Linked DNA regions of Homo sapiens: all the other regions are linked to region 1. Evidence: fine-mapped expression QTL. A gene starts in region 1. Each other region holds a variant in brackets. All regions are shown on one strand. Distances are between the middles of the regions.

What was found. PIP is the estimated chance that this variant, and not a neighbour inherited with it, causes the effect. A credible set is the group of variants that fine-mapping cannot tell apart.
Region 2: its variant is the best candidate, but not a certain one, in a credible set for the expression of PDCD4 in CD4 T cells (Kasela 2017, PIP 0.52).
Region 3: its variant is the best candidate, but not a certain one, in a credible set for the expression of PDCD4 in CD4 T cells (Kasela 2017, PIP 0.82).

The regions. Positions count from the first base shown.
Region 1 is chr10:110,865,605-110,876,648 of GRCh38, reverse strand. It overlaps PDCD4 (programmed cell death 4), which reads right to left and starts at 4,721. Exons shown (of 12, transcript NM_014456.5): 1 at 4,631-4,721; 2 at 579-683. The coding sequence starts at 621. It overlaps PDCD4-AS1 (PDCD4 antisense RNA 1), which reads left to right and starts at 5,745. Exons shown (of 1, transcript NR_026932.1): 1 at 5,745-7,759. It overlaps LOC124902500 (a long non-coding RNA gene), which reads right to left. Exons shown (of 2, transcript XR_007062288.1): 2 at 10,201-10,475. RefSeq lists silencers at 3,969-4,168, 4,379-4,528, 4,559-4,608, 8,861-8,930 and enhancers at 5,613-6,223, 9,051-9,100.
Region 2 is chr10:111,077,903-111,088,946 of GRCh38, reverse strand. ADRA2A (adrenoceptor alpha 2A) reads right to left here. Exons shown (of 1, transcript NM_000681.4): 1 at 8,040-11,044. The coding sequence starts at 10,950. The coding sequence ends at 9,553. Among named protein-coding and RNA genes, the nearest start is that of ADRA2A, 6.4 kb to the right of the region's middle. The variant G/T (reference allele first, on the strand shown) is at 5,620.
Region 3 is chr10:110,945,182-110,953,406 of GRCh38, reverse strand. The region is part of intron 1 of SHOC2 (SHOC2 leucine rich repeat scaffold protein); the gene reads right to left. Among named protein-coding and RNA genes, the nearest start is that of SHOC2, 30 kb to the right of the region's middle. The variant G/TG (reference allele first, on the strand shown) is at 5,641.

The DNA.
Region 1 (11,044 bases):
AATTATTTGTTAGGAAAGATACCAAAGATACCAGTAAGTTTATATTACAGAAATCACTAACTAGCCCATGTGAAAATAAGCAGGCTCACTATTCTTCTCTATTCTGTACTATATAACAGAGAATAGGAATATGTGGAATGTGAAAGGATAGGCAGAAAAATAGGACATGTAATGAATTTCCATGAAAATAAAAATCACAAACTTGACTTTAAAAATAATATAGCCTGTTTTCTTACAGCATGAATAAAAGAGTATTTAAAGATAGTTTTTCTATCATGTTTTTATAAAATATGGAATGGTCTGAAGCTTCCTCACAACATAGTCAAGCTTCAAGATATTTCAGCCTAGGCAACATAGTGAAATCCTATCTCTACAAAAAATAAAAAATTAGCCTGGTGTGGTGGCACACACCTGTTGTCCCAGCTGCTGAGGAGGCTGAGATAGGGGAGGATCTCTTAAGCCCAGGAAAGTCAAAACTGCAGTGAGCCATGATCACACCACTGCACTCCAGCCTGGGTGACAGAGCAAGATCCTGTCTCAAAACGAAGAAAAAAAGAAAAAAGGATATCCTTACTTACCTGCAGGGTTTACATTCAGTATCTGCTCATTTTCTACATCCATTTTCCCTTAATTTCGCTTGCACTGATTAAACAAATTACCTAATGGAAATCTTCCTTCAGAATCTGTTTTTTTAAAAGAAAAAAAGAAAGCTTCAAGATCTTTTAAACTGATGTAATTAAGCTGAATTAAACTTACTTAAGCACACTGTAAAAACAAACGACAACAACAAAAAACACACAATTCCATTAAATAAAACAGTTCACTTTACTTTCAAAGACAACTTACCCTAATTAACATTTGGTTCCAATCTTTTTGATAAATTTATCAAAGTCAAAAAAAAAAATCCCAGATTTCAGCATGTGCCAAAGCACCCCTTTAATTGGAATTAAAAGATATGTTTGTGATACATGTTTACGTCAAGTTAAAGAAATACACACATCCAAATCTTTTAGGAATACCAAGCCTCAAAATTAATCTGATATACATACATAGGAATATAAATACTGGATAGTTCCCTACCAATGAATTATGAGAACTACTCCAAAATAAAAACAACACAGTTTTAGTTAATAAAGAATATCACATGACTGTGTTATTTTTCACATTACGGCATATCTGAAAGGCAGATATATCTGCCACTCATTACCTAGGTCTCTATAATTACTAGAATAAGACTTTGGGAGAAACTTTTAAAATCAGCTTTTTTGATAATATTATTTATATGAGAAATCCTTTTTTGATAATATTATTTATATGAGAAATCCATTTTTTAAAAATCTGATCATTTCAGAAAGGAGTAAGTACAACGACATAAGCATTTCAGTATTTTAGGCCTCAGTTTCAAAATGGCTTAAAAATTATTAATACTGGAAGGTTTGATGAAATCAGTTACCTTTTAGACAATTAACTTAGTGATACAGATCCAATAATGTTATATGAAAGAAATATCAAAATAGTTTTCAAAAAATATATTACCAGAAAGTGCAACCAAATTAAGATTTCAGAATCTCTCTAGAAGTATTTTTTAAATAGTGGTTTAGAGTACTTAAGTGTATGTTTAAGTCACATAGGTTGGATATAAGTCCTTCTGGTCATTTACAATCAGGTTGCTAGCAGTGTGCTCTTCAGAGATATAAAATGCACAAATTAGTGAAAATGCCTAATAAATTAATTACAGAAAAGCACATTTTTTCCTATATAACTTAACCTACTGTTAGATGTCATTTTAGGATAACAATGATATATACAGAGCCTCCTGGGACTCAAAGGTGAAACTGACTTTTAAATTCCTCATTATGTACTACTATTTGCTAACATAAGTTTATAGCCCTTTTCTTCAGAAAACGGTATTATTTTGTGAAACAAAAACAAATGGACCTTATGTTAAAATTATAGGCTTCTTACTATGGTATAATCCTCAGACTAATATGCTATCATATTGCTTGGGAACTTAAGAAAATGGTGAGATCATTCTCTAATTCTGTTAAGAATAAATTAATATATGTGAATCTTTATAATCACTTTTCACTATAACTCCCGCCAACTTTAGATATGAAAAAAAAATCTTAAAAATATGTAGAGATTCATATAAATATATGAACAAAAATGGTTTGCAAATCTAAACACTCAGCATCCTTCATGGCTGAAAAGGCTACATTCTGTTTTAATTCCATGCATGAAATACATATAGGAAAGGAATAATGTCATATGATACGTGTTTCAGTTTTTTAGAGTTCCATTACAAAGTCTTTTTCATTCTTGATGAAAGTATAACTTTTGAGAGAATACTTTCTGCAGAACCTAATAAGCGAAATGATTATAATTGATGTTCATAAAGCCCTTTACAATTCAAAAAGAATTGTACATGTATTATTTAATGTACCTTACAGAAAAACCTTCGGGTAGGTATTCCACCTTACACACAACTAAACAGATTCAGAGAGGGTAGGTGATATGTCCAAGGACAGACAGCTGCTTAGTGGAACAGCCAGGATGAGAATCCAGACCTTCCAAATCCAGTACTGTTTGCACAAGTTCAATCCAAAATTTTAATATCCCACAGGAAGATTCTTTTCAAGGGTTAACAGAAGCTTCTTAAAACAGACTTCTGCTGTTCAAACTTTTAAATGCTGTTTTCCAAACACTAAAAATAATTATTTTAAACTATTATACAGAAGGCATTCCGTCAGACAAAACTGTCAGGAAATGACTATCATCTCTTTTATTAAGATAAAAACAAAGTTATCTTAATAAAAAAAATAGTCCTGTGTCTTTAGGCAATGATAACCCGATCAGGAACTCAAGTCATATTTGACAGCAACAAACACGTTTTAAGAGTTTAGATAAGACATGTTCCACGTTTTTACGCTCTTTAAAGTAGTAGGATTTTTTCCAATTTATTTAACAACCCTTAATTGGCCCAAACAAGAAAATATAAAGCAAAAAATCCAAACGCTATTTCCTTCATACTAACCTACAAAAATGAATTTTCGATGAGAAAACTATACATACAAGTTAGAAGAAAATGAAGGCTGACATTAAACACTGTTCTTTTCTCCAGTGTGTTACACGAAATATACAATCAGAAGTATTCAACTGCCAAGACATTCCCTAAGAGACAGACCCTCCACTCCCCCACGAAATATATACATATGTATTTCCTGAAATATACCTCATAAATTGCTCTGGCATTTTGGGGAGTCAAGCTTTGGCCATTTATTAACTAGGATTACTTGTATTCATTCTTCGGCTACGAACGGCTAATTAGCAGCTTAAAACCAGCTAAAAGCATTCTACTACAGTAATGCAAAAGCAAGCACTACAGATAATATTCAAGCGGCATTTATTTTTGCAGTCCTAATATTTTTTCCTTTCACATTAGTACCACAGAAAAAGCCAGTCAATTATAATTCAAATACACTTACTGAGATATTAACGTATTCAATAAGCCTATAATGAAGGAATATTAAGGGCATAAATACCAGTAACTCCTTGCTTAAAAAGCACTTGGTGGTTTCCCAAAAAAGTCACGTTAAGAATATCAAGATTGTAACAATTAAAGTAAAAATACAAGTTAAAAACAGGGGAAACCCTTTTTTCCCCGACACCTAATCGCATTTCTGATCGTTTTCATCATTTGTAGACACTACACAGTTGCTGGCTACGTAGCGAGTTCTCACAAGGGGGAGGGGGGCGAAATTGACGTCTGCAGACAGTTTTGAAGCTCTTGCAAAACCCCATGTACGTTACAGCATCAAACTGACAAATGGAGAAGATGGCATGCGTTTCACAGAAAGGGGGCTCCCTTCCCGGCTTTGTTTTCTCTGGGAGATTTTATTTTACCTAAACTAAAAAAAAGAGACCCTTTGCCGGAAGACGGGCGCGACGAAGTTCGCGCAGGGATGGGGCGGCGGGCACGTGTTCGCCTCCCAGCGCCCCCGGCGAGGATAGCGCGCGGCCCCTCCCCACAGCGGCCGGGCCTGTTCTCCCGCAGCGGGCTCAGGCTAGGACCCCCGAAGTCCCAGCCCGGGTCGGCCCCCGGAAGGGGCTGGGCCGGGGCCGAGGCCGGGGCTCCGGGTTCACGAAGGACAGGGGGCCGCATCTTCAGAGGATTCCCAGGGAGGGCAGGGGGCGGGGAGGGCGCGAATCTTCCTCACAGGATTTCAGTCCAGCCGGAAACACGCCTTCCAATCCCGGCCCCCGAATTCAACCTCCGCCAGAGGGGGAGGAGGGCTGAGGGGGACCTTCAAGGGCGAGCGCCTCGCGCGCCCCTCTCAGTGGGGAGATGGCTCCGGGAGGGGGCGGGCCCGCGCCGACACGCTCCAGGCTGGGCTCAGAAAGAGGGAACCAGGCCGGATGCCCGCAGTCCGGGGCGTTGGGGAGGGCGCGGCTGGACCTGCGGGGCTACAAGAAGGCAGCCGGACCCCCGCACCGCAGGCCCGGACCTGACAGGACCGCGACCCCCACGCCTCCGCCCCCGCCCCCTCCCATCTTGCGGCTGCCTCCGAGGAGGGATGGGGGAGAGGGCGCAGTCTTCCCGAGCGTGTGAGCCGCGCCTACTGGTACTGACCCCTCGGGCCCCCGCCGCTGCTCGCCCAGGTTCCTGGTCAGCCGGCCCCGACCCCGCTCTTCTGTCTCTGCCGCCGCCTCGGAGAGTCTCTGGCCCTTCTCGCTCTGTTTGTTTTTGTTTTCTTCTACCCAGTAACACGGGGGCGAGAGGGCGGCGCTTATTGGCCGAGGCCGGGTGGTCGGCTGGCCAATCGTGGCGGCGGAGCCGGAGCTGAGGAGGAAAAGGGAGAGGAGTGAAACGTGGAAAGTTGGGGAGGGGCGCGGGAGGGCGCATGCGCATGTGGCTCCTGGGACTGGCTGGAGCGGGAGTTGAGCGGGAAGTCGGGGTGGGGGTATGTTGGGAGGCGTGGCGGGATGGGAGCGTTGGGAAAAGGGCAGTGCTGGGGGATGGGGACGAGGATGAAGCTTCCTCGACCCAGCTCACCCATTCTCCTCACAGGGCGTTCTGCAAACTCGGCTGAAGCAAAGGTTTTGAGCTTCCTGATGGTCCCTGCCTCCATTTCTAGAAACTGCTTAGGCGAACACTCCAAGTGATCAGCCTGTCCGATTCCTCCTCCCTCTGGCCGCTGCTTTCTCTGTGGCTTCCAGTTTCTGGAGATCCCATGCTAAGAAGTTTCTCTCAGCGAATCCCCTCAAACCTTTGAGATGGAAATAATTCCCATTTCACAGATATAAAGCAGGCTCCAAAACTCTTTGAAGTTCCTTTGCTAATCATGACTAGCCAAGCCTCTGGCGTTCAAACGCACAAATTCCGGCCTCCAGTGCTGGGGTTCTCAGCCATGGCTACAATTTCTGTATTGAAACTTCCACCTCCCCTCGCTGTTCTCTGTGACTTTTCCTCTTGGCTGCATTGGTTTTGGCTGGTACTATCCTTACTCTTTCAAGGTCACGGTCCCCTGAGGGTGATAACCAGAACCTTAGGCTTCCTTTGTGTTCCCAGGCGGGGACTTAGCCACTGCCTCTGATCAGATTTTTCAGTTGTCTGATGGGCAGCACCGAATGATTGCTTGTGCTCTCCAGAACCCAACTGCCTCATCCCGCACAGGCCAGCGCTTTCCCTTGGCTGCCCAGTCACCCTGCCTGGGAATCATCTCTAATGCTACTATTTCTCTGCACACACACGCACACACACACACACAAACCTTCACTGGCTTCCCATTGCCTCTCTTGAGTGTCAGCGCCTCGGTCGGTCATTCAAGGCTCCGTGATGTGACTTCAAGACTTTCAGGCTGTGTCTCCACACATCTCCCCATATGCTTCCTCACCCCCTGGTAGTTCTTTATATATCACCTTGAAATGTCTCTCTTCTCATCTCCTATCTCCGCCTGATGCAATCCTTCTGTGCCTCATGGCCCTTCCTGGTAGTTTTTTATTTTGTTGTTGTTGTTGTTTTATTTAATTGAGGCAGGGGCTTGCCCTTTAGCCCAGGAGAATGCAGTGGCATGATCACAGCTCACTGCTGCCTCGACCTCCGTCAGCCTCCCTAGCTCAACGATCCTCTCACCTCAGCCTCCTGAGTAACTGGGACTACAGGCACAGCTCACTATGCCCAGCTAATTTTTGTATTTTCTGTACACACAGGGTTTCATCATGTTGTCCAGGCTGGTCTTGAACTCCTGGGCTCAAGCAATCAGCCCACCTCTGCCTCCCAAAGCGTTGAGATTACAAGCGTGAGCCACCATTCCTGGACCCTCGTAGTTTTTCTGGAGCCTCGTGATTTGATATGATCTTCCTGCCGCTGATTCCTCACAGTGTTGGCTTGCCACACCTCCAGGGGCACTGATCACATTCTACCTGGCATTATTTCATCTGAGTCCCTGTCCTAGCCCTTCTGCCCATTAGACTGTAACCTTGTTTAGGGAAAGACCTGTGTCTTACTCATCTGTGATTTTGTTGTTGTTGTTGTTTTGAGACAGGGTCTTGCCCTGTTGCCCAGGCTGGAGAGCAGTGGTGCAATCTTGGCTCACTGCAGCCTCAACCTGTTGGGGTCAAGCCATCCTCCCACCTCAGCTTTCCAAGTAGCTGAGACTACAGGCCTGTGCCACCACACCCAGCTAGTTTTTTGTATTTTTAGTAGAGATGGGGTTTTGCCATGTTGCCCAGGCTTCTCTTGAACTCCTGAGCTCAAGGGATCTGCCTGCCTCGGCCTCCCAAAGTGCTGGGATTACAGGCGTGAGCCACTGTGCCTGACCCACTCACCTGTCATTGTAGTACTTAAGATGCCTTGTTCATTTATTGTGCCTGTGCAATAAATACACCTTGATTTGAGTTTACAAAGATTCTCAGCAGTTGGTGGTCATCCTCATCTCCTGGGCGGGGGCCTCCTGGTGTGGCCAGTATCTGAATTAGTCTCATAACTCATGTTCACTTTTTAAAATCGGAGCTTCCCAGACCTCAGTTTTGTTTTGTTATTTTCCATTATCTGCAGCTGTCTCCTTTCCCCTCTCTCACCTATACTCTACTGATCAGTGACTGCTGGCTCCTTTGTTACCCATCCTTCTCTTTCTCCACATTTTTTCTCTTCTCATCCCTTTCAGTTCTGGACTGTTTCCTTCTTCCTCCCTGTCTTTCATTTAGTCATTCATTGAATGTACTTACTAAGCACATATAGCATAATCAGGCTGTGTTGGGTAGGCATCCCGAGTTCTATGAGATAAAGAAAGAATGGGATATGATTACCAATTTTAAGAAGCATCTAAAACAACCTGTTATGTTTTAGCAAATTGCCCCCAAAGGACCCATTAGGGAGGAAAACGTTCATGTCCTTTTTGCGTATCATCTCAAGCAGTACCCATGATGGCTGGGATCCCAGAACCCACCTTTGAGAATGCTGCCGTATTTGCGTGTGGTTGACAAGGTTGGGCCAGACACTCAGGAAATAGGGTTGTCGTCCTACCTCCCCCACTAACTTCCTGTAAGAACTTCAGCCCCTCTCAGGACCTTTTTCTTTACCAATAAAATTCAGAAATTGGGCTCAATCAGTAATTCCCAAGTTATTTTCCAAAGAACATGAATTTTGTGGAACTTTAATAGATATCATGCAAAAAAAAATGTGGGAGGGATTGTTCCATGGTCAAATGGTCTTGGAAATAACTCGTTTAAACAAAAATAAAACTGTTTCTTTACCCACAACTCTTCTCAGTGGTTTTTTGTTTGTTTGTTTGTTTTTTGAGATGAAGTTTTGCTCTTGTCGCCCAGTTTGGAGTGTAATGGCACTATTTTGACTCACTGCAACCTGTGCCTCCTGGATTCAAGTGATTCTCCTGCCTCAGCCTCCCCAGTAACTGGGATTATAGGCGCCTGCCACCACGCCTGGCTAATATTTATATTTGTAGTAGAGTTGAGGTTTCACCATGTTGGCCAGGCTGGTCTCGAACCCCTGATCTCAAGTGATCTGCCCTCCTCGGCCTCCCAAAGTGCTGGGGTTACAGGCATGAGCCACCGTGCCCAGCCTTCTCAGTGTTTTTAATAAGCTATGTGCCTTTAGTGTCTTGGGAGACCAAGGTAGGAAGATTAGTAATGTTTCCTACCTTGTTTAAACACAGAACCTTTTTTTCTCAAGATACCCCAGAAGCAGTGTTATTTAGAAACCAACTTGGGAAATATAGATGACAGCCACTGTCACCAACATTCCTTCCAGCTGTGTTGAACACTTAGTCACCTGTGCCTTTGCAGCTGAACATTTAACAAAAAAAATTTTTTTAAGAATAAGCTGAAAATGGAGAAGTATCCAAGTGCCAAGAATTTTTGCCTACCAAATCAATCCACAAATATTTTAGTGTGTGCCTGTTCTATGAAAAGCACAGTTGATTCAGCTGTGTTCTTGGTAAAAGGCATTATACTACTTTAGGGTAGGTAATATCTGAAGCCTAGGGCTGCCCGGGCTTCTGGGCCACAATGTATGTTTTCATTTCACGTTGTAATTGTCACAAACTAGGTTTCTGTTACCTGAATCCCTGTGCCTATGGGCTTATGTTAATTTAGCTATTAGATGACAGAAAAGGAGAGAGGCCTTCCCCTTAACTCACTCTATACAGAATAATGGAATTGCAACTTCCATTTCCCTTAAGAAAGATTCATTCCAAGAGCTTAGGAGAGGAAGGGAGATCACAGTTGCCCAGAACAAGACAGCTGCTCAGAGGTGGCAACAGAAACTCTGTGCTTTGTGAGTAGATAAACGTTACATACTTCATCTTCCCCGTACTCCTCAGGCTTAAGCAGTATTGAGATACTTGGAGGGGCGCAAAGAGTGTTTGGTTTTGTCAGGGGAGAGGGTGGGAGATAGTTCCTATTTTTCGCCTCTTAAGACAAGGTAGTGACCCTGTCCCTAACTAGCTGTGTTGCTTTGGGTGTTTCACTTCCTCTCCCTGAGTGAATTGAATGCTTCAATTTTCTGTGCTGTAAAAGAAGGAGGTGCCCATTGCAGGGAGTCCATAAGCAGCCATTCAGTTCTAACACCCTGGGATGCTGAGCAAGGTACTGAGTTGGTACCATGGGAGTCCTGGGAATGGAGAACAAGAGATAAGAAAGTTTGCTGGCCGGGTGTGGTAGCTCATGCCTGTAATCCCAGCACTTTAGGAGGCCAAGGTGGGCGGATCACTTGAGGCCAGGAGTTTGAGACCAGCCTGACCAACATGGTGAAACCCCATCTCTACTAAAAATACAAAAAAATTAGCTGGGCGTGGTGGTGCATGCCTGTAGTCCCAGCTATTCAGGAGACTGAGGCAGGAGAATCTCTTGAACCTAGGAGGCGAAGGTTGCAGTGAGCTGAGATCCCGCCACTGCACTCCAGCCTGGGTGACAGAGACAGACTCCACCTCAAAACAAACAAACAAAGGAGTTTGCCACTGTTGGCAGGAGAGGATTCCACCGGGTATGGACAGAGGGACTGTCAACCCAGGGGCTTTCTCCTAATGCAAAGCTCAGATAATATCACCTCCCTCCATCCCAAAGGCAAAGTGATGGCTGGTGTGGGTTTAGGAGCACTAATTAATTAATTTGGGTAAAGTACTTGAAAAAGCACAGTTGAAGGCAAAAGATAAGCACCTAGATTTACTATTAATGCCTTTGGAACTCTCCAAGGCCTTTTCATTCTTAGGGTAAAGCCTCATTTGAGAGTTCTGTTTCTTAATAAGAAATGGTCATGCCCCTAAATGAAATTGAGGAGAATTTGTCTTTCTGGGGGCTAAGGGTAGGTCTTAGCCCACTTCCTTCCTAAGAAATTTTAGATGCTGCTGTCATTTGCAGCAACTTCATCTACCTGAACTGACGCCTTGTCTCCTTTTGTCAAACCAAAGCCTGAATTTTGAGAATTTCTCTAAGGCAAAAATTGCACTTTAGCACAAATGGTAAAAGATATAAAACATGTTCTGAAGAAAGAGCTGCATAAAGAATTCTTATAATAATGATGATAGCTGACATTTGTGTTGGCCTAAGATTTACTGAGCACATGTGCATAGACTTTCACCACCTCCCTATGAAGTGGACAAGATTCTGTGCTTTAAACATGAGGGAAATAATGAACCTTGAGCAGGTCACTGGTAATCATGGAACTTTTATACTGAAAGGAAATTTGGGGATTCCCTAGTCCAAACCTTTTATTTTACAAATGGAGAAACAGATTCAGAGAAGTTAAGTGGGTCACCTAAAGCCACACAGCTAAGTTAGTAGCTGAGCCAGAAGTACATATGAGATCTCTGCCCAGAGTTGTAGGGAATGTGCAGACCAGGAATCCAGACCTTCTGGCACCCAGGCTGGGCTGGACTTTCCCTCACATGCCTCTTGATTGACAGTTAAATTTCTGGGTCCTAGAGGCTCCTGGTATCAGATGAATCCATCTCAGGGGCCTGAAAGTGGGGAAGAGGGAAAGGGTAGTAAGCATTGTACAACGTTTAGAAACCCTTCAAGGGGCATTTCTTGCATGTCTTTCCTGGGGTAAAAAGCAAGCACAGAGTAATGTGAAGCATAGTTCAAAAAATAGATGCAATATTTTACTGTGGTATGTACCAAGAAAAATTGAAAGACTACTAAGATTTTATTTCCTCAATTCAGGTTTCGAAAGGTTTTCTTAGTACATTTGTCTTTTATGGGGTTTCCCCCCCTCAAATCACTCCTACCACCTTAGAGATTTAGAAAAAAAGCTCAATTAACATTGAGGAACTCCAGCAAGAAATCTTTCCCGCACCATATCCCCCGCCAAAACACAAATTTTACCACATCTCCTATACTTGGCCTAAGTTCTAAGCCTTTGCAAACTCCAGTTCATTAGACTTTTGCAAACACAGACCATTCCACCCGATGCTTTTCAGCATTTATTATAACTGCCACGCCCTGCATTTAATAGTGTTGAGTCAGGGTAGAGAAGTGCTCCTCCAGTTGTATCTCTCGGGGCTTTATTCGCATTCTTCTGGAACAC
Region 2 (11,044 bases), 210 kb before region 1:
GGGTCCTGGAGCTCTTCTAGGCCCACCCTCTTGTGCTATTGAAGACACAAGGTCTTCCATCAGGCTGGAAAAAGAGAAAGCTAAGACCTAAGTGGTCAAATCTCTGTCACAAATCACCCTAAAACACTGCCCCACCCAGCCCACCTCAGCCCAGGGCAGTTACAGGAGTAAAAGGAACCACCCAACTCCCAAACTAGAGAAGAAAACGTTAGCACTACTGAGCCTCTACCAGATGCCAAGCATAGGCCTAAGCAACCTACCAAAACACTGGCAACTTCTTCTACAAGTTACATGTGGAGAAACTGGTGCTTAGCCATCTGTTCAAGGTTAAACCAAAGCTATGTGATGAAACCAGGATTTTAATTCAGGTCTTCCTGATTCCAAAGTTTTAGCTTTAAAGTGCCCTTCTCAGCAATACCAGCCATTCCCTCCCTGGGAATTGCACAGTGGGAAGCTGTCAGCACCTTCAGAAGGGGCGAGGTGCTACCCACACTATTGGAACTGGGACTTCGGGGAAGGATGCCTGGCAGGCATTGCTGGCAGAGGACCCCTGAAGCCATTGCTAAGCTGGGTCCAGACAGGGAGAGAGCAGAGATAATCAGCTCATTCTCCACTCTCACTCCTGCACCCTGATCTGCTGGTGGCTGCCCTTAGGCAGAACTCAGAGAGCACAGAAGAAAGAGTAAGGGGGCAGCTCACAGGGCTCAGCCTTCCAGGGCCCAGCATGGACAAGGGCAGAGACTATAGCCAAAGGTGCAAGTAGAGAATATCTAATATAGAACCCAAAGCTCCGTCCTCAATGCCTTCACCTGGGCTGCCCTCTCTGGGGGCTCCTGGGAGGGACAGCTCCATTCCAAGTAAGTGTTCAAAATCCCAATGAGAACACTTGGACACAGGAAGGGGAACATGACACACCGGGGCCTGTTGTGGGGTGAGGGGAGGAGGGAGGGATAGCTTTAGGAGATATACCTAATGTAAATGACGAGTTAATGGGTGCAGCACACCAACATGGCACATGTATACATATGTAACAAACCTGCACATTGTGCACATGTACCCTAGAACTTAAAGTACAATTAAAAAATATATTTTTAAAAAATGGAAGGATTAGGTTTCAGGCAAACAAGCAAATGTGGAGGGTCATAGGAAAAGGCCCAGCCAAGAGCAGTGAGTTCGCTGCTGAGAGCTCCTCACGGCGGGCAAAGTAGACATCTCTGTCAAGTCACAGGTTCCCTAACTTCTTGGAAATGGATGACTTTTATCTTTGAGGGCCTGAACAGCCCGGAACAGGAGTCAGCAGCACAAGTTCCAGATTTGGGGCTTATCAGATCTTCTGATCCCAAGCAGAATCCATGGGGTTGGCCGGGGTGAGTCCTTGCAAGCTCTCATTCACCCTTCATAATCAACTAATCTTTGGGGACATGACATGCTTGTGCTCCACGGTCTCTCCTCAAATCCTCCCTGGCTGGTTGTGTCGATAAGACAGGTGACATTCGGAAACGAGAAGCGCGTCACACCAGGTCAGGTCCCGTGGCCTGTTAGGTCAACATACCACCATGACTGACTGAATTCACACTCCAGGAGATGTTTGCATTTGACCATGAATAGGAAGCTCTGAGCCAAGGAGCCACTCCTTGAAGATGGAAATTCATGGAGGGTAGGAGCAGTGGTTCACAGTATTTTGCAGGCAGGGGAAGCTCTAAAATCCCAATATCTGGGTCTGCACAGACACTGGCGCTGCCACTGGGTGACCCTGAGGGAGTGAGGGCTCCTGGCCTTCCCTGTGGTGTCAGCAACCTAGTCAGGCTATTAATACTTTGACTGAATTACTGCTCCCAATAACCCTCCCCAATCAGTCTCCACCCAGCAGCCAGAATGATTGTTCTGAACCAAAAAAAATCTGATCAGGTCCCTCCCTTGCCTAAAAAACCTCTCATGGCTCCCCATGCCCTCAAGATAAAATCCTTTACCTGCAGCTGCATGATCTGGACTATCTTCCTCCAGCCTCGCCACTTTCACATCTCATGGTCCTATTAAAGTGGACTTCATAAGTTGCTTGAATATGCAATGTCCCCCACCCCTGGCACTCCCAGTCCCTTCGCTGGACCTATTCCTGCCCATCTCTCATCTCTCATCTGGCTGCACACTTCTCTGGGCTCCCTCCCCAATGCCTTCATCTGGGCTAGCTTTCCCCACCCACCCTGGCACCTGCATCACCAGGCTTACCACTTGCTGGAGCCCACAAAAGAAGAAGCTCCCACCACAAAAGAAGCTCTTCCCCCAACAAAAGAAGAAGTTCTCCCCCTCACAAAATAAAAAGCTCTCCCCCAACAAAAGAAGAAGCTCTTCTCCCACAAAAGAAGCTCTCCCGAAACAAAAGAAGCTCTGCCCCAACACAAGAGGAAGCTGTCCCCCAATAAAAGAAGCTCTGTGAGGTAAAGATCCTAATTAGTTTGTTCCCCACTCTACCCCAACACCTAGTACAAACAGAGGGATGTTAGTGACATTAGCTTGGGGCAGCTCCAAAACATAGTTGAATGAATAAAGGAAGGAAGGACTCTATCATTCATTCATTAAATGTCTCCGTGTCTCCTCTAGGGCTAGGGCATAAAAAATAATCCCTTAAGTGTGTTCAGGGAGCATGCTGAGAACAGAGCAGCAGACTCCCCAGTGTAACCAGGGGACAGGTGAGGACATCAGCCTGGGCCAGTCCTCATCTCCCCTCACCCGGGCCCCAGCCTCAGTGGCCATCACTGCTGGGCAGCTCTGAGCTGTGTCTGAGCCACAGACATGGGATGGGGATTACCCAGAGAACTGTGGCCAAGAGCCAGCCACATGGGTCCCTGGGGCTCTCTCTCTCTCACCTGACCAGGTTGCAGGGAAGACAGGGAAGGGGAGTGTATGTGTGTGTGTGTGTGCGCGCACGCGCACACACACACACATAATAACCCCACACACAGCCTTGCATCTGCATAGTCAGGGAGGAAGGAGGGCCTGTGCTTTTCTTCTACAGATGCCCAGTGACCCAAGCAGCTGGCCCTTGGACAAACTGCAGAAAGCAGGCAGCTGGCCTCCCTCCAGCCTGTTCCCCAAAGTGCTGTTACTCTGCCTTTCTCAGGCTTTGGGTTCTACAGTAGATATTCTCTACTTGCACCTCCAGCTATAGTCTCTGCCCTTGTCCATGCTGGGCCCTGGAAGGTTGAGCCCTGTGAGCCGCCCCCTTACTCTTTCTTCTGTGCTTTCTGAGTTCTGCCTAAGGACAGCCACCAGCAGATCAGGGTGCAGGAGTGAGAGTGGAGAATGTGCCGATTCTCTCTGCAATCTCCCTGTCCAGACCCAGCTTAGCAATGGCTGCAGGGGTCCTCTGCCAGCAATGCCTGCCAGGCATCCTTCCCCGAAGTCCCAGTTCCAGTAGTGTGGGTAGCACCTCGCCCCTTCTGAAGGTGCTGACAGCTTCCCACTGTGCATGTCCCAGGGTACTTCCCTGGCCCTTGTAAGTTTCTCTTAACCCTGCCTGTACCTTGCGAACAGTCCGTTTTCAATTCCCCTTCTTTCATCCCTTCACAGGGTGCCATCTTGTTTTTCTCAGGTATAGATTTTAAAGAGGTCTCAAGTCCTGGGGACAACATTAACAGCCTCTCACTCTTGCCTCCCATCCCCTCCAGAATTCTCTGTAGTCAGATAAACTGCTCCTTCCACAGAGAACAGGACAGCCTGGAGGCTACAGAATATGCCTGCCAGAGAAGCAGTGTTGGCTGCCCCAGAATGCGCACATTGCATCATCCCATCCTCCTCCTAGATTGGCTCCATTGCCCTAGAAGGGGAGTGGCATTCCACCTCGGGGGAGCAGACTCGCAGGCAGGGAGGGGCCAACTGACATGACAACCAGTGAGACGCACCACACTCCCCTTTAATTCCCTTTGTGACCTCTTCCCCTGGTGTGTACACATATACCCTCAACTGCCCAGATGCTTCCACGCCAGGCCCAGGTGAGCAAAGTGGTCCTCAGTGTCCATTGGTGCCTGTTTACACGCACACAGAGATACATACACACTCACACACCCATACACGCTCACATGTTACACACACATACACATAGGCTTAGCCTATGTTTGGAAAACACACCAAACCCTCACTTCTACCCCAGCCTCAATAAGGCCAATGGCCGTTAGCGCCAGATCTCCCTACAGAGAGCACATGGCTTGGCCCTGTCCAGTGTGCCTCACCCATGGCCTGGACAGAAGGAGAGAGCAGACCGGCATTTCATAGAATTATAAAATGGATCATCAGAAAAGCCCCGTGAGATCCCTTAACCCAGTATTACCCAACAAGAGTTCCAGCAAACATGAGTCTCTGAGATGCTCTGTTAAAAAAAAAAAAAAAAATGAAATTCCACAGTCCAGGGAGTTTGGGAAACAGCACACCACGTCATCCTCTCTCAGACAATCGGAAACCACATAGGCACATTAAAGGCTCTGAGAGATCCTGAAGGAGATGTACCTATTAAAGACTGCTTACCCCAGCATTTCACCAGATAGGTGGCAGACAGGGAAGAGATGATACGTAGGTGACAGACAGTAGAGACAGATAGAATGATAATGTCAATAGATAATGTAGATAATATAGATTTTGTAGTTGAATTAACTGCACAGAACACACTGTTAAATAATATTAGACCAACCACTTGCATTTCATAAATGAAGAAGCAGGGACTCAGAGAGGGATTTGCTCAAGACCACATCGCTGGTAAAAGACAAAACTGGGCCTAGAACGCAGGCCTCCTAATCCTCAGTCTAGGCTATTTCCAACAGACCCTGTTCTATTTTTTTTGTATTTAACTAACTCTAAGCCCCAGGATTTCTGGTAATCAAATAGATCAATGCTATTTCCAAAACAAATCTGAGTGTTAGTGATTTTGCTCCGTGACTTGACGTGGCCTCCCTTTCGCGCGTGCCCTCTGCTAAGGAAGGTGCCCCTTCCTGCACCCTGGACTCTCAGGCCCACTGTGAGGGGTGGCAGGGCCCAGGGCAGAGGCCAAAGGGCTAACCTGGCACTGGGCTCTGGACCTCGGTACCTGGATCCTATTATGCTACTGAGTCAAGGACGTAGACTTCCTTACAGGTGTCCCCAAATGGGGACAGGACCTTGTCATGCCATCCCCAAGATGAGGTTGGATGAAAGCTGAGGTCTGACTTGGGCCTAGGTGCCACTGCCCAGGCCTGGCACTGGTCCCACAGGACTCAGCTGCTAGAACCAGAGCTTCCTTCGCGGGCCTAGCCTTCTCAGAGTGTGGACATCCCAACTCCCACATTCTATGCCCTGAGCTCCCAGCCACAGCCACCTCTCCCCCACTGCTCACTCACAGTACAGATGCCTATTACCCTTGGTGGGCACACAGCATCCTCTCCCCCACTGCCACACTGTCACTGTGTGTGGCTAATGAGTGCTTTTCACAGGAACATCCTGTCTCCCCATGTAGCTCCAAAGCTTCCAGAGGGCAGAGGCAGGCCCTAATCTCACTCCACAGGGACAAGTGGTGAGCTTTGCACAGTGCATGCAGGGAAGGAAGAGAACTGCCTTGCAATGCCTAGGATGGTCCTTGACACAAAGCAGGCACAG[G/T]GGATCCTCTGGGGTTGATTAGCAACTCACCACATCCCAAAACAAAATAGAATTCATGTTGGGTGCATATGGCATCAGACGGAGAGTCACATGGAAGAGTGGGCTCAGGGGCTCCTGGAATGCTACATAACCAACAGCTTTTCTAGGTCTCAGGTCCCTTGATCTGCCACTACAAGGTAAGAGTTAAGGATTGATGAGGATGCTTCTGGCTCTAAATCTCTGATTTGATTATACAGTCATAGACAGGGGAAAGCCCAAGCCACGTTTTCATCATTCTCTCCCCCAGCCTTTTAGCATAGAAGAAATTGAACAAAGCCTTGGGGAGGAGGAGACTGTGCTTGTGCCCAGGCTCAAATGAAGGCACTACCCTTCCCCCAACCCAGCACACTTGCACGAGTAAATCTAGCAAGACACACTTCAGACCCAAAAGCCAATGGCTTTCAATATCCCAACCAAAGTTACATAAAACAGGAGATTCGGCCACGAAGACAGACCCTCTTGGCCCAGATACTCGGGAACAGATACTATGCACAGGAAAATGTGGGGTTAGCTCTTTAAGCCAAGATCCCTGTGGGAGCCATTTCACCTTAATTTCCCTCCCCACCCCACACCTTGGCAGACTGTTGCTTGAGCCCTTTGCAAATGAATAAACAGTGATTCCTACTGTGAACTCAGAAACCCACCCATGCCTGGGCTCCAGCCCTCTCTCCCCCACTTTCTGCAACCTCCATCCACCTCTGAGGTTTCTCTGCTTCTGTATCGAGGAGGAGGGAGCATGACACCAGAGGCCCCTCCGTGTAGCACCTCAGCCCATGCTTCTTCCCCCTCGGCGGGTGGAGGCAAGGCAAACACTTCCCTGACAGACAGGACAGAGCTGAGAGTCAACAGCAAGCAGTATTTGTATCTGCTCCTGTGGCTGGGACACACAGCCTGGGTCCTGGGGGCTCGCCAGGCAGGCTGTTGTCTGGCACTGTTTGCCTTTGGGGCAATGGGTACACTGGAGTGAGGAGGGAGAGGAGAGGCTGGGGTGAGGGTGGGATGGGGAGCAGGCCACAGAACCAGACCAGGGAGCCAGCCGTGGCACCACAGGCCAGGAGGCTGTTTTCTGAAGCCTCTGAGCCAGGGTCACTGGAGCCCAGCACCTGGCCATCCTCCTGTGTGCCGGCTCAGAGGATCCAGGTGACGGCAGGAACTCCTCACCCCCTCAGAGCCATGGTCTTCCCTCTCCCAGGCCCCTCAGTGCCCAGATCATTTCTCAGGGCTCTCTACCCTCCCACTGCTGCATACACAGACACCCTCTCCTGCACGAGAGAAGCAAAGGAAGATGAGGAGATGCTGCATGGCCCAGAGGGTGCAGAGGACCTGCTTCTGGGGGGTGTCCAAAGCTGGTCCGCACATATTACAGGTGACTGGGCTCACAAAAGCTGGCCTCCCCCAAAACCACAACCTGACGCTTGTGTTTGCCCCTCAAACCCCCCTCCTCCATAAGTGGCTATTCATCAGTACTGCATCTGACTACACACACAGAACTACTACTACACATCTCTCAGCTGCGCCCTAACCCGGGCAGCCTGGAGCCAGAGCCCTGTCACCTAGCGCCTTGGGATCCTGAGCAAGTCGCTTCCTCTTGCATCTGCATTTGCCTTCTCATCTGTCAGATGAGGGGTTGGACTCCTGGATCACTAAGGCCCCTTCCAGCTTCAAAGTGCCATTACCATAGTATGAGGGCCATAAGCCCTCCTAGACAGCAGAGCAGACTTTGATATTATAGCAATGCAACAAGAAGGATGCATGCCTTCTGGCCAGAGACAACTCAAACCACCAACTAATACATGGTTCTATTCAGGTTTTAGACCATACTTAGTGCATAACCACACTATGGAGTATATGCTACATGTCATATATTATCATGCTTTAAGGTGTGATATACATTTTGGAGTATATTCCACACTTGGTGCATATACCACACTTTGGAGTAGATACACACTTTGAGGTATATAGACACATTAGGTCATGTAGACACTGGGGTATGTATACACCTTGTGTATATTAAATACTGGGATATATCTCACACCTGGTATAGATAGCACACTGCATAGACACCTCTCCACTGGGAGTGTTCTGAGAAGGGCTAATGCCAAAACTCTGGAAAGGTTCTGGGGTTAAGAGTGCAGGCCCTAGAACCAGATAAAGCTGGGTACGATGCATTTCCACCACTTGTTAACCTTGAGCAAGGTTAACAAACTTGCTCTGAGACTCAGTTTCTTCACCTGTAAAATGGGGATAGTAATAAAACTTACCTCATAGCGTTCTTGAGAAAAGTAAACGAGGCAATGCCTACAACCAGTTCACCACAGTGTCTAGCATGTCAGAAACACTTAGTAAATGGTAGCTTTGTTACTGATGGAACGTTTAAAAAATTTTTATAATGTACATTTTTTATTTTTAAAAAATCCATAAAATCAGATGTTCCCAGAGTCTTAAAGCTTTTGAAAACTCAGATAACAGACAAGAGGACCACTCCATTCATATTTATTTCACATTTGATCTGTAAACTTTTTTATTTAAAAAAAAATCCACTGTCATTAGCAACATGTGCTGACATTAGTTTTTCTTTAGTGAAATAAGAGTGCAGGCCTTAAATTGTCTCTGTCTAAAACATGTAGAAATGCAGATGTAAACACAAAGTCTCTGCCCTCCTCCCCTGACTTTGGCAGTTCATCAATGACATGATCTCAACCAGAAAAGCACGGAGGGGGGAAAGGACAACATTTTGATACCTAACAGCTCTTGGGGAAGAAACTGTACAGTTTGGCAGGCCCATTTGTCTTTTCAAACTGTTTACCTTGGGCAAATTGTATCAGGTTTGCTTCTTCCACATAATTTCCACTCCTTGGAGTCTAAAAACAGCAGCTAAAAGATTTCCCCATAGTCAGCACTTTCGGGGCAGGAGGGGCACACAGACATACAAGATAGAAACATACATATTCTTCTTCAAGCAGTGGCCCTGGAGGGAGAGAGGGAACACTGGAAAGAGAGGTTTTAAAGTGAGTTACTGGGGCAAACAGTGCATCAGAGAATAATGGCTTTATACACAGGGCTGATGTGAGGCAGAAAGGCTCATTTACTTATGTCTTGATCCACCATCATAATATTTACATAGGAAAAGGCAATTATGCTGTTAGGCACAGGAAAAAAATGGACAGAAATCTTTTCCCTGTCAGGAAATCTCAAAGCAGGTCCGTGTCGAAGGGACAGTCACCAGTTGCTGGTGAAAACGACGACATAGAGGGACTTCATAACACCAGAAAGGGCTTGCATTGCAAAGGGGCTTGGCCTGAACCAGACAGCTGTGTCTGCCTGGAAGGCATCTCTCCCAAGGCCAGGATTTCAACATCAAAACCAAGGCCAAGAGATATGGGGGCCCCATGTGTGCTATCAAAAATAGTGTATATTTACAGCGGGGGATGGGGAGGGCAGGCAGGGCTGCCCTTAGCATTTTTCTTTAAAAAGAGAGAGAGAGTTGGGAATGGAAGGGGAATTAGCCAGGGCTAGGTAACCCCCATCCATTAACCTTTTGTGAGCCATGCCCTTGTAGTCCAGTGCTTGCTCTGAAGAGCTGTGAGGGCTGTACCAGGCGAAGAGGGTGAAAATACCTTTAGGAAGCAATAGTGATTAGGGGTGGCCCACTAGGAAGATGGCTCCAGGTCAAGAGTGGCCAAACCAACAACTGGGGATGTGTGGGCCTGGCAGCAAGAAGCTTCCCTTGTAGGAGCAGCAGACGCCCGCCCGCAGGAGGCTGCAGAGCCACCCCAGACGAGGAAACGCAGAGCAGGCAGCGCCCGGGTTTCTGAGTGCCCTGGGGCTAAGCACCCCTCGATGCCCCCCGCTGCCTGCAGTCAGCGTGAGTCTACGCGGGCGCCAGCGGAAACCTCACACGATCCGCTTCCTGTCCCCCCGACAGAGGATCTTCTTGAAGGCGCGGCGGAAATCGTGGTTGAAGATGGTGTAGATGACCGGGTTCAACGAGCTGTTGCAGTAGCCGAACCAGAAGAAGAATTTGAAGAGCGTGCGTGGCACGGAGCACCCGACGGCCGTGAGCGTGTAGGTGAAGAAGAAGGGGAACCAGCACACCACGAACACTCCGATGACCACGGCCAGCACGAACGTGAAGCGCTTCTCGCGGTTCTGCCGCCCGCGCCAGCGCGACGCCTTGGCAGCCCCGACGCGCTCCTCCCCCGGCCCTGCAGCCGGCGTCCCGATCCCCGTCGCCCCCGGCCCGCGCCGCGGCAGGCTGTCGCCCGGCTTCACCTGGCTCGCTCGGGCCTTGCCTTTGCCCCGGGGACCGCGCTCGGGTCTGCGGGGCCCTGGAGGCCGCTCGGCGTGGTCGGAAGACGAGCTCTCCTCCAGGTCCAGCGCGTCGGTGTCGCGCGGCCCGGCCGGCGCGGGCTCGCCAGGGGCGCCGTTGAGCTGGGTGGGCAGCGGTTCGGCCTCTGCGCCCCCCGGGCCCGCGCTGCGCTCGGGGCCCAGACCGTTGGGCCTGCGCTCGGTGCCCCCCGGCGGCGCGGCGACGGCGTCCGGACCCCGGCGGCTGGGTGGCACGCGGGTGCGACGCTTGGCGATCTGGTAGATGCGCACGTAGACCAGGATCATGATGAGGCAGGGAGCGAAGAAGGAGCCGATGCACGACGAGATGACGTACCACTTCTGGTCGTTGATCTCGCAGCGCGGCTCGGCCGGCTGCGGGCCGCCGCCGCCGCCCTTCTTCTCGATGGAGATGAGCGGCGGGAAGGAGATGACGGCCGAGATGACCCACACGGTGATGATGATGGCCTTGATGCGGCGCGGCGTGCGCTTCAGGTTGTACTCGATGGCCTGTGTGATGGACCAGTAGCGGTCCAGGCTGATGGCGCACAGGTGCACGATGGACGACGTGCAGAAGAGCACGTCGAGCGCCAGGTAGATCTCGCACCAAGCCTTGCCGAAGTACCAGTAGCCCATGACCTCGTTGGCCAGCGAGAAAGGGATGACGAGCGTGGCCACCAGGATGTCGGCCGAGGCCAGAGACACCAGGAAGAGGTTTTGGGGCGCCTTGAGCGCGCGGCTCGTGAACACGGCGATGATGACGAGCACGTTGCCGAACACGGTGAGCAGCATGAGCAGGCCGGCCAGGCACACCAGCGTCAGCGTCACCTGCAGGGAGTAAGGGGTGGCCCGGGCGCCGCCCCCCGGCGCCTCGGTCCCGTTCCAGCTCGCGTTGCCCGCGTCCGGCTGCAGGGAGCCCATGGGCGCAAAGCTGCCCTCGGCCAACGGCTGCTCCTGGCGGAACATGAACGCGGGCGCCCGCTGGCCTGGGCCTGCTGCCAGCTGCCTTCCGGCCCGGCGCCCGTGGGTCCTCCTCTTCCTCCGGCGCCCCGCTCGCCTG
Region 3 (8,225 bases), 78 kb before region 1:
AATCTGCAGAGGCTACATACTGTATGAATCCAACTATGAGACTTTCTGGCAAAGATAAAACCAGGGAGAGAATAAAAAGATCAGTGATTCTGATCATTAGAGAAATGCAAATCAAAACTACAATGAGACACCATCTCACGCCAGTCAGAATGGTGATTATTAAAAAGTAAGGAAACAACAGACTCTGGCCAGGCTGTGGAGAAACAGGAACACGTTTAAACTGCTGGTGGGAATGTAAATTAGTTCAACCATTGGGGAAGACAGTGTGGCGATTCCTCAAGGATCTAGAACCAGAAATACCATTTGACCCAGCAATCCCATTACTGGGTATATAGCCAAAGGAGTATAAATCATTCTAATATAAAGACACATGCACACATATGTTTACTGCAGCACTATTTACAATAGCAAAGACATGGAACCAACCCAAATGCCCATCCATCAATGACAAATTGGATAAACAAATGTGGTACATATATACCATGGAATACTATGCAGTCACAAAAAAAGAATGAGCTCATGTCCTTTGCAGGAACATGGATGAAGCTGGAAGCCATCATCTTCAACAAACTAACACAGGCACAAAAAACCAAACATTGCATGTTCTCACTCATAAGTGGGAATTGAACAATGAGAACCCATGGACACGGAGGGGAACAACACACACCAGGGCCTTTTGCGAGGTGCGGGGCAAGGGGAGGGAGGGCATTAAGACAAACACCTAATGCAGCCAGGGCTCAAAACCTAGACGACAGGTTGATCGATGCAGCAAACCATGATGGCACATGTATACCCATGTAACAAACCTTCACATTCTGCACATGTATCCTGGAACTTAAAGTAAACTTAAAAAAAAAAAATCAGTTATTGCTAGGGGTTGGGGGAGTGAGGGATGAATAGGTGGAACACAGGAATTTTCAGGGCAGTAAAGCAATTCCCTATGATACTATAGTGATAGTTATATGTCATTACACATTTGTCAAAATCCATTGAACCTACAACAGTAAAAACCCTAATGTAAACTATGCACTTTCTGTGATAATATGTTAATGCAAGTTCATCAATAATAATGAATGTGCTTACTCTGATGCAAGATGGTGGTGGCAGGGAAGACTTCGCTTGTAGGGTGGAAAAGGGAATATACGGGAACTCTGTACTTCCAACTCAATTTTGCTATGAACCTAAAATTTATCTAAAAGTGAAGACTATATTTTAAAAATTTAACTGGAAAAAATCACTTAAATTACTGCTTTATTAAAAGCTGAAAAAAACAAAACGTAAAAAGGCAAAAAATTAAGGTTAACTAGTGTGAAAGAGGGCAATATTTAAGAGAAACTAGTAGTTTCATTGTCTGTAACAATCTACAGATGACCTCTTAAGTCTGTCCTAAATCAAAAATAAAAACAGCCCTGTGCCTGTAAGTTTTAATCAATTGAAAAGACATTATTAGGCCAGGCGTGGTGGCTCACACCTGTAATCCCAGTAATTTAAGAGCCTGAGGCGGGCGGATCACTTGAGGTCAGGAGTTCAAGACCAGCTTGGCCAACATGGTGAAATCCCACCTCTACCAAAAATACAGAAAAATTGGCCAGACATGGCTATAATCCTAGTTACCTGGGAGGCTGAGGTGGGAGGATCGCTTGAACCTGGGAGGCAGAGGTTGCAGTGGGCCAAGATCAGATCATGTCACCAATATCAGGATTTCCTAGATTTGAAGGCTGAACGTCACATTTTCTGTGTGTATTCTTCCATCAATGAAGACATAGGTTGATTTCATATCTTGGTTATTGTAAACAATGCTGCAATGAACATGGGAACGTAGACATTTCACAATATAATAATTTCATTTCCTCTAGATACGTACCAAGAAGTCAAAGAAATGAGATTGATGGATCATATATGGTAGTTCTCTTTTTAATTTTTTTATGAAACTCCATACTATTTTTCAGTACATGGCTGTACCAATTTACAACAGTGTAAAAGAGTTCTATTCTCTCTATATCCCCACCAACACTTACAGTCTTATTATCGTCTTTTGGATAATAGGTATGAGGTGACATCTAACAGGTGTGAGGTGACATCTCATTGTGGTTTTTATTTGCATTTCCCTGATGATTAATGACGTTGAGCATTTTTTCACATACCTGATGTACACTGTATGTTGTCTTTTGAAGACCATCAATGCAAGTCCTTTGTTCATCTTAAAAACTTGGGTTGTTTTTGTATCATTGAGTTCTTAAATATATTTTGGATATTAAGCCTTTATTAAATGTATGGTTTGCAAATATTTTCTCCTATTCTGTCAATTATTGTTCACTCTGTTGATCATTTCCTTTGCTGTGCCGAAGCTTATTCAGTTGATGCAATACCATTTCTCTATTTTCGCTTTTATTCCTTATGCTTTTGGGGTCATATCCAAAAAATCATTGCCCCAACCAATGTCAAGAAACTTTTCCCTTTGTTTTCTTCTGGTAATTTTACAGTTTTCGCTCTTTAAGTCTTTAATCTATTTTGAGTTGATTTTTGTACATGGTGTAATTATTTTCATGTTTTTATATATAGTACAGGAATGAAATTTTTATGCTCATGCTTCTGCATATGGATATTCAGTTTTTCCAACACCATTTATTGAAGAAACGATCACTTCTCCATTCTGTGTTCTTAACATCTTTGTTAAAGATCAACTGATTGTACACATGGTATAAGCTTTCTGTTCTGTTCTGCTGGTCTTTATCTCTGGTTTTATGCCAGTACCACACTGTTTGGATTACTAGGTTTGTAGTATATTTTGAACAATTATGGAGGCATCGGGTAGTATGATGCTTCCAGAATTGTTCTTGCTATGGCTGCTTGGAGTCTTTTGTGGTTACATACAAATTTTAGGATTGCTTTTCCTATTTCTGTGTAAAATATCATTGGAATTTTGATAGCTGTTGTATCAAATATATAGATTGCTTTGGGTAGTATGGACATTTTAATAATATTAATTCTTCAAATTCAAAAACAGGATATCTTTCCATTTATGTGTCTTCTTCAATTTCTTTCATCAATGTTTTATCGATTTCTGTGTAGATCATTCACCTCCTTTGTTAAATTTATTCCTTTTTATTTTTATGCTACTGTACAGGGGATTGTTTTCTTAACTTCTTATTCATTGTTAGTTTATGGAAACACAACTGGTTTTTGTAAGCTAATTTTATATTTTGCAACTTTACTGAATTCATTTATTAATTCTAACATTTTTGGCGGAGTCCTTAGGGTTTCCTACATATAAGATCATGTTATCTACAGAAAGACAATTTTACTTTTTCCTTATTGATTTCCACATCTTTTATCTCTTTTTCAGGTCTAACTGCTTTGATTCAGATGTACAGTACTTTATAAACTAGAAGTGATGAGAGAAGAAATCCTTGTCTTCTTCCTGATCTTAAGAGGACAAGCTTCCAGCTACCTGAGGGCTTATATAATCTTTATGGTGTTGAGATACGTACCTTCTATCCCTAATTTGTTGAGTTTTTATCACAAAGTGATAATCTTGTCAAATGTTTTTTCTGTATCTATTGAGAGATCACACAATTTCTGTCCTTCATTCTGTTAATGTGTTGTATCATTTATTGGTTCTTGCATATGCTGAACCATCCTTGCATCCCTGGGATAAATCCCACTTGCTCACTGTGTGTGAACCTTTTAATGTGTTGCTGAATTCAGTTTAGTAGTATTTTGTTGAGGATTTCTGCGTCTACGTTAATCAGAGATACTGACCTGTATTTTTTTTTTCTTTTAGTGTCCTTGTTTGGCTTTGGTATCACAGCAACACCAGACTTGTAAAATGAGTTTGGAAGTATTCCCTCCTCTAAGGTTTTGGAAGAGTTTTAGGACTTGTGCTATGTCTTCTTTAAAGGTTTGTTGGAATTCACCAGTGGAGCCTTCAGGTCCAAAGCTTTTCTTTTTTGGGAGGTTCTTGATTACTGATTCAGTCTCCTTACAGTCACTGGGTGTGATTGGATTTTCTCTTTCTTCATGATTGGTAGACGCTATGCTTCTAGAAAAAAATTTCTATTTCTTCTAGGCTATCCATCTGTTTGTGTATAGTTATTCATTGTAGTCTCTTATTATCTCATTTGTATTTCTGTTGTATCAGCTGTAATGGCTTCTCTTTCATTTGTAATTTTAATTGAGTCCTTTTTTTGCATAGTCTAGCTAAAGATTTGTCAGTTCAGTTTCTTTTCACAAAACCAACTCTTAGTTTCATTATCTCTTCTACAGTTGTTCTAGTCCCTATTTCATTTATTTCTGCTCTGATCTTTATTATTCCTTTCCTTCTAACAACTTTATGTCTGGTTTGGATTCTAGTACAAGGTTTCCAATCTTTTGGCTTCTTTGGGCCACAATGGAAGAAGGATTGTCTTGGGCCACAAGTAATTTACACTAACACTAACGCCAGCTGATGAGCTGGGAAAAAAAAAATGCAAAAAATCTCTCATAATGTTTTAAGAAACTTAGAAAGTTTACAAGTCTGTATTGGGTCACATTCAAAGCCATCCTGGGCTGCATGTGGCCCACAGGTTGGACAAGCTTTTTCTAGTCCTTTGAGATACAAAGTAAGGTTGTTCATTTGATTATCTTCTTTTTTCCTTAATGTAAGCATTTATCACCATAAAATTCCCTCTTAAAACTGCTTTTGCTGCTTCACGTAAGTTTTGCTATGTTGTGTTTCCACTGTCTTTTGTCTCGAGACACCTTTTCAAATGTCCCTTTTTTCTTTGATCCACTGGTTGTTCAGGAATGTGTTAATTTCCACATATTTGTAAATTTTCCAGTTTTCCTCCTGGTGTTATTGATTTCTAGTTTCATACTCTTATGCTTACAAAAAATACTTGATACAATTTCAATCTTCTCAAATTTCTTAACACTTGTTTTATGACCTAATGTGTCTTAAAGAATGTTCAATGTGCACTTAAAAAGAGTGTATATTCTGCTACTGTTCAATGGAATGCTCTGTATATGCCTGTTACGTCCATTTGGCCTAAAATGTTGTTCAAGTCTGTTATTTCTTTATTGATTTTCTGTCTGGCTAATCTATCTATTGCTAAAGCAGAGGTACAAAAGTCCCTATTATTATATTACTATCTATTGTTCCTATCATTTCTGTTAAGATTTTAGAATCTTGGCTTTCTCATTATAAAAAATATTTTGGTGCTCTGATGTTGAGTGTATATATATTTACAACTATTATATCTTCTGGATGAACTGCCTTCTTTATCATTGTATAATGACTTTGTCTCTTATGACAGTTTTTGACTTGAAGTCTATTTTATCTTACATAAATATAGCCACCCCATTCTCTTCTGGTTACCATTTGCGTGAAATATCTTTTTCCATTTCTTCATTTTCAGCCTATGTGTGTCCTTAATGCTAAAATGAATCTCTTTTAGGCATAATACTGTAGGATCTTTTGAAAAATATATTTTAAAAAACTCTGCCTTTTGATTAGAGAACTTAATCCATTTACATTAAAAGTAATTGTGGATAAAGTCTTAACATTGTCATTTTGTTGTTTTCTGACTATCTTGTAGCTCCTCTATTTCTTTCATCTTCTCTTAATGTTTTCCTTTGCGATTTGATTTTTTTTTTTTTTTT[G/TG]GTACTTATTTGCTTTCTCTTTATCTTTTGTGTATTTACAGGGGTTTTTCTCCACGAAATGTATATAAGACATCTTGTAGTTATAATAGTCTGTTGTTAAGCTGATAAAAATTTAATTTCAATCACATACAAAAACTCTTAACTTCTCCACACCCTCTCCAAGTTTACATTATTGAGGACACAACTTATATCTTTTTAGATTATATATTTATCAACAAATTATCATAGCTAAAGCTTTATTTTGTTCCTTTGATGGTGTCACGTTTCCCTGATCATTTGAGATCCTTATGGACTTGCACTGGTGTCTGCATATTTGAAGAAGTAGTCACCTCTCCAGTCTTTACAGAGGAGCTTTAACATAGGAAGCCCTTTACCAGTCAGCCTGTCCAGAGATTCCGGACAGCATGGCTGGCATAGTCCACGAGCAGGCTTGCTGCCTGACTTCTCCAGCAGGCTAGCCTCAGTTACTGGATCCGCAAGGATGGGTCTGGAGACTGGTTCTGTGGGATCTGGCCTGGTGCCTGGGTCCATGGGTGCCAGCCTGGCACTGGGGTTCACTGAGGTGGTTCTAGTGCTGGGGTTCACAGTAAAGTTAGGGGCTCACTTGACTCTCCTTCCTCCACTTGGAGGGCATCTATCTCCATACTGTGCTGCACAGGCTTGGGAAGGGGTGAAACAATTAATGTGCAACTGTAGTTCCTATCCTCTTCAATGCATCATTTGTTGTATCTATGCTACACCCGGGTGCTACAATCTATCATTTGGAATCCTTAGCTCTTGTGAAGGTATTTTTGTCTATGAGTGGTTATTCGAAATGCTTCTGTGAAGAAACAAATGCTGAAAACTACTATTCTGACATTTTACTAACATCACTCTTCCTATTTAACTTTTAAATATGATGAAGTCACTCCCTTGCTTAAAAAATCTGATGCCATCCCATCTTTCAAAATAAAAGGCAAGCCCTTACCTCCAACCTCCAAGACTCCACATGATCTAGCCCCTACACTTGTCTAGCTTTTCTCCAACTCTCCCCGCTAGGTACTTGCATTCCATTCATATTAATCTTGCTTTTCTTTGAATGCAGATCTACATGCTCACACATGAAGTCTTTGTTCTAGCTATTCCATCTGCATAGATACAGCCCTTTCTCTCAAATATCCACATTGTTTGTTCCCTGCTCAAATATCTCATTCTTGATCTACATATAAAAGAGAAATGTCTTCCTATTCTTTTTACCCTGCTTTATTTTTCTTCACAACATTTACTACCTCATAAAATATATTTACTTATTTATTTTGTCTATCATCTCCCTCTCCTCTATGAATGTGAAAACTGTGAAAGCAGGGGCTTCTGACTATTTGGTTTGCAGCTGTATATTCAGAGCCTAGAACCTGGCCAATACTAGATGCCCAAGAAATGGTTACTACATGAATAAAACAACAAATTAATGTATCTAGACATAATTTTTTAGAATAAATTTCTTCTTTAAGAAATATAAATGATCAGCTTCAAAATATGTTATCTCAGTAAAACTAAAATGAAAAATAAAGAAGGCATGGTATAGAATTGTCATTCCCATACCCATCAGAAGTTACCACTACAATAATAAGATATCAAGGATTTCACTGAGTGATATCATGATTATACTATTCAAACTGAAGGGATTTTTATTTGATTAAAAAAATCCTACTCAGGGCCTGAGTAGGATGAAAAGGACAATCCCACAAAGATGCAGTTCTGTGTAGGGTATCAGTTAGAACAGGAAGAGATGAACACTGACATATGATGGTAACCCACAAGATGTTTAAGAGGCCAATTGGGATAGGGTGGGTATGCTCATAGGAAGATAGCTCAACACAGAGAATCAGAACCTGATTGGGGGTGAGAAGAACATCCACAGGTAGTGATGAACCAGGGTGTGATACTGGAGTCTATGAGAGTGAGGAAGATTTCTACATAATAGGCTTGATTGATGGTTAAGGAGGAGGCTGCGCAACATGAACAGTTAAGATTTCAAGCAAGGTGAAAAGGTATTCACACACAGGGTAAGCCTAGCATGGAGAGTCAGAGTCTGAGTGGGGTTGGGGTGGAGATAGGGAGAGTCAAACATGGAGGTCTGTCAGTGTGGGATGGCAAAGCCCAAGTGGAGGCGACATCACAGAAAACAGCAGAGTAAGCATCTCTAAAAACTGTCTCTTCCACAAAAGCACAAAGAAAACTGGAAAATAGAATCAACTTTATCAGAACTCTAAAAATTAATAAAAAGCTTGCATCCAAGTTGCATTTATTTTTAAAAAGCTCAATCTCATTAAGAATGATGAGCTTTCTATTTTAACTTGCCCTAGTCCCATCCCTTGCTCTCCAGATCCACAGTAGTCTTGAAGAAACGACAGCTCACATTCCCAGTGCACTCTAGAAGCTACGTTAAAAAGCAGCAAGAGTTGTAGCTCATTCAAAGCTTCATTCTCCCCAAATTATTGCTTGAGCAGTCTTGTTTCCAGGAAGACCCTATTTGCAATGCTGACCGTATGTGACCTGACTCAGAGCTTGCACAATGCAAAACGCCTTTTCCCCAGGGAGATATT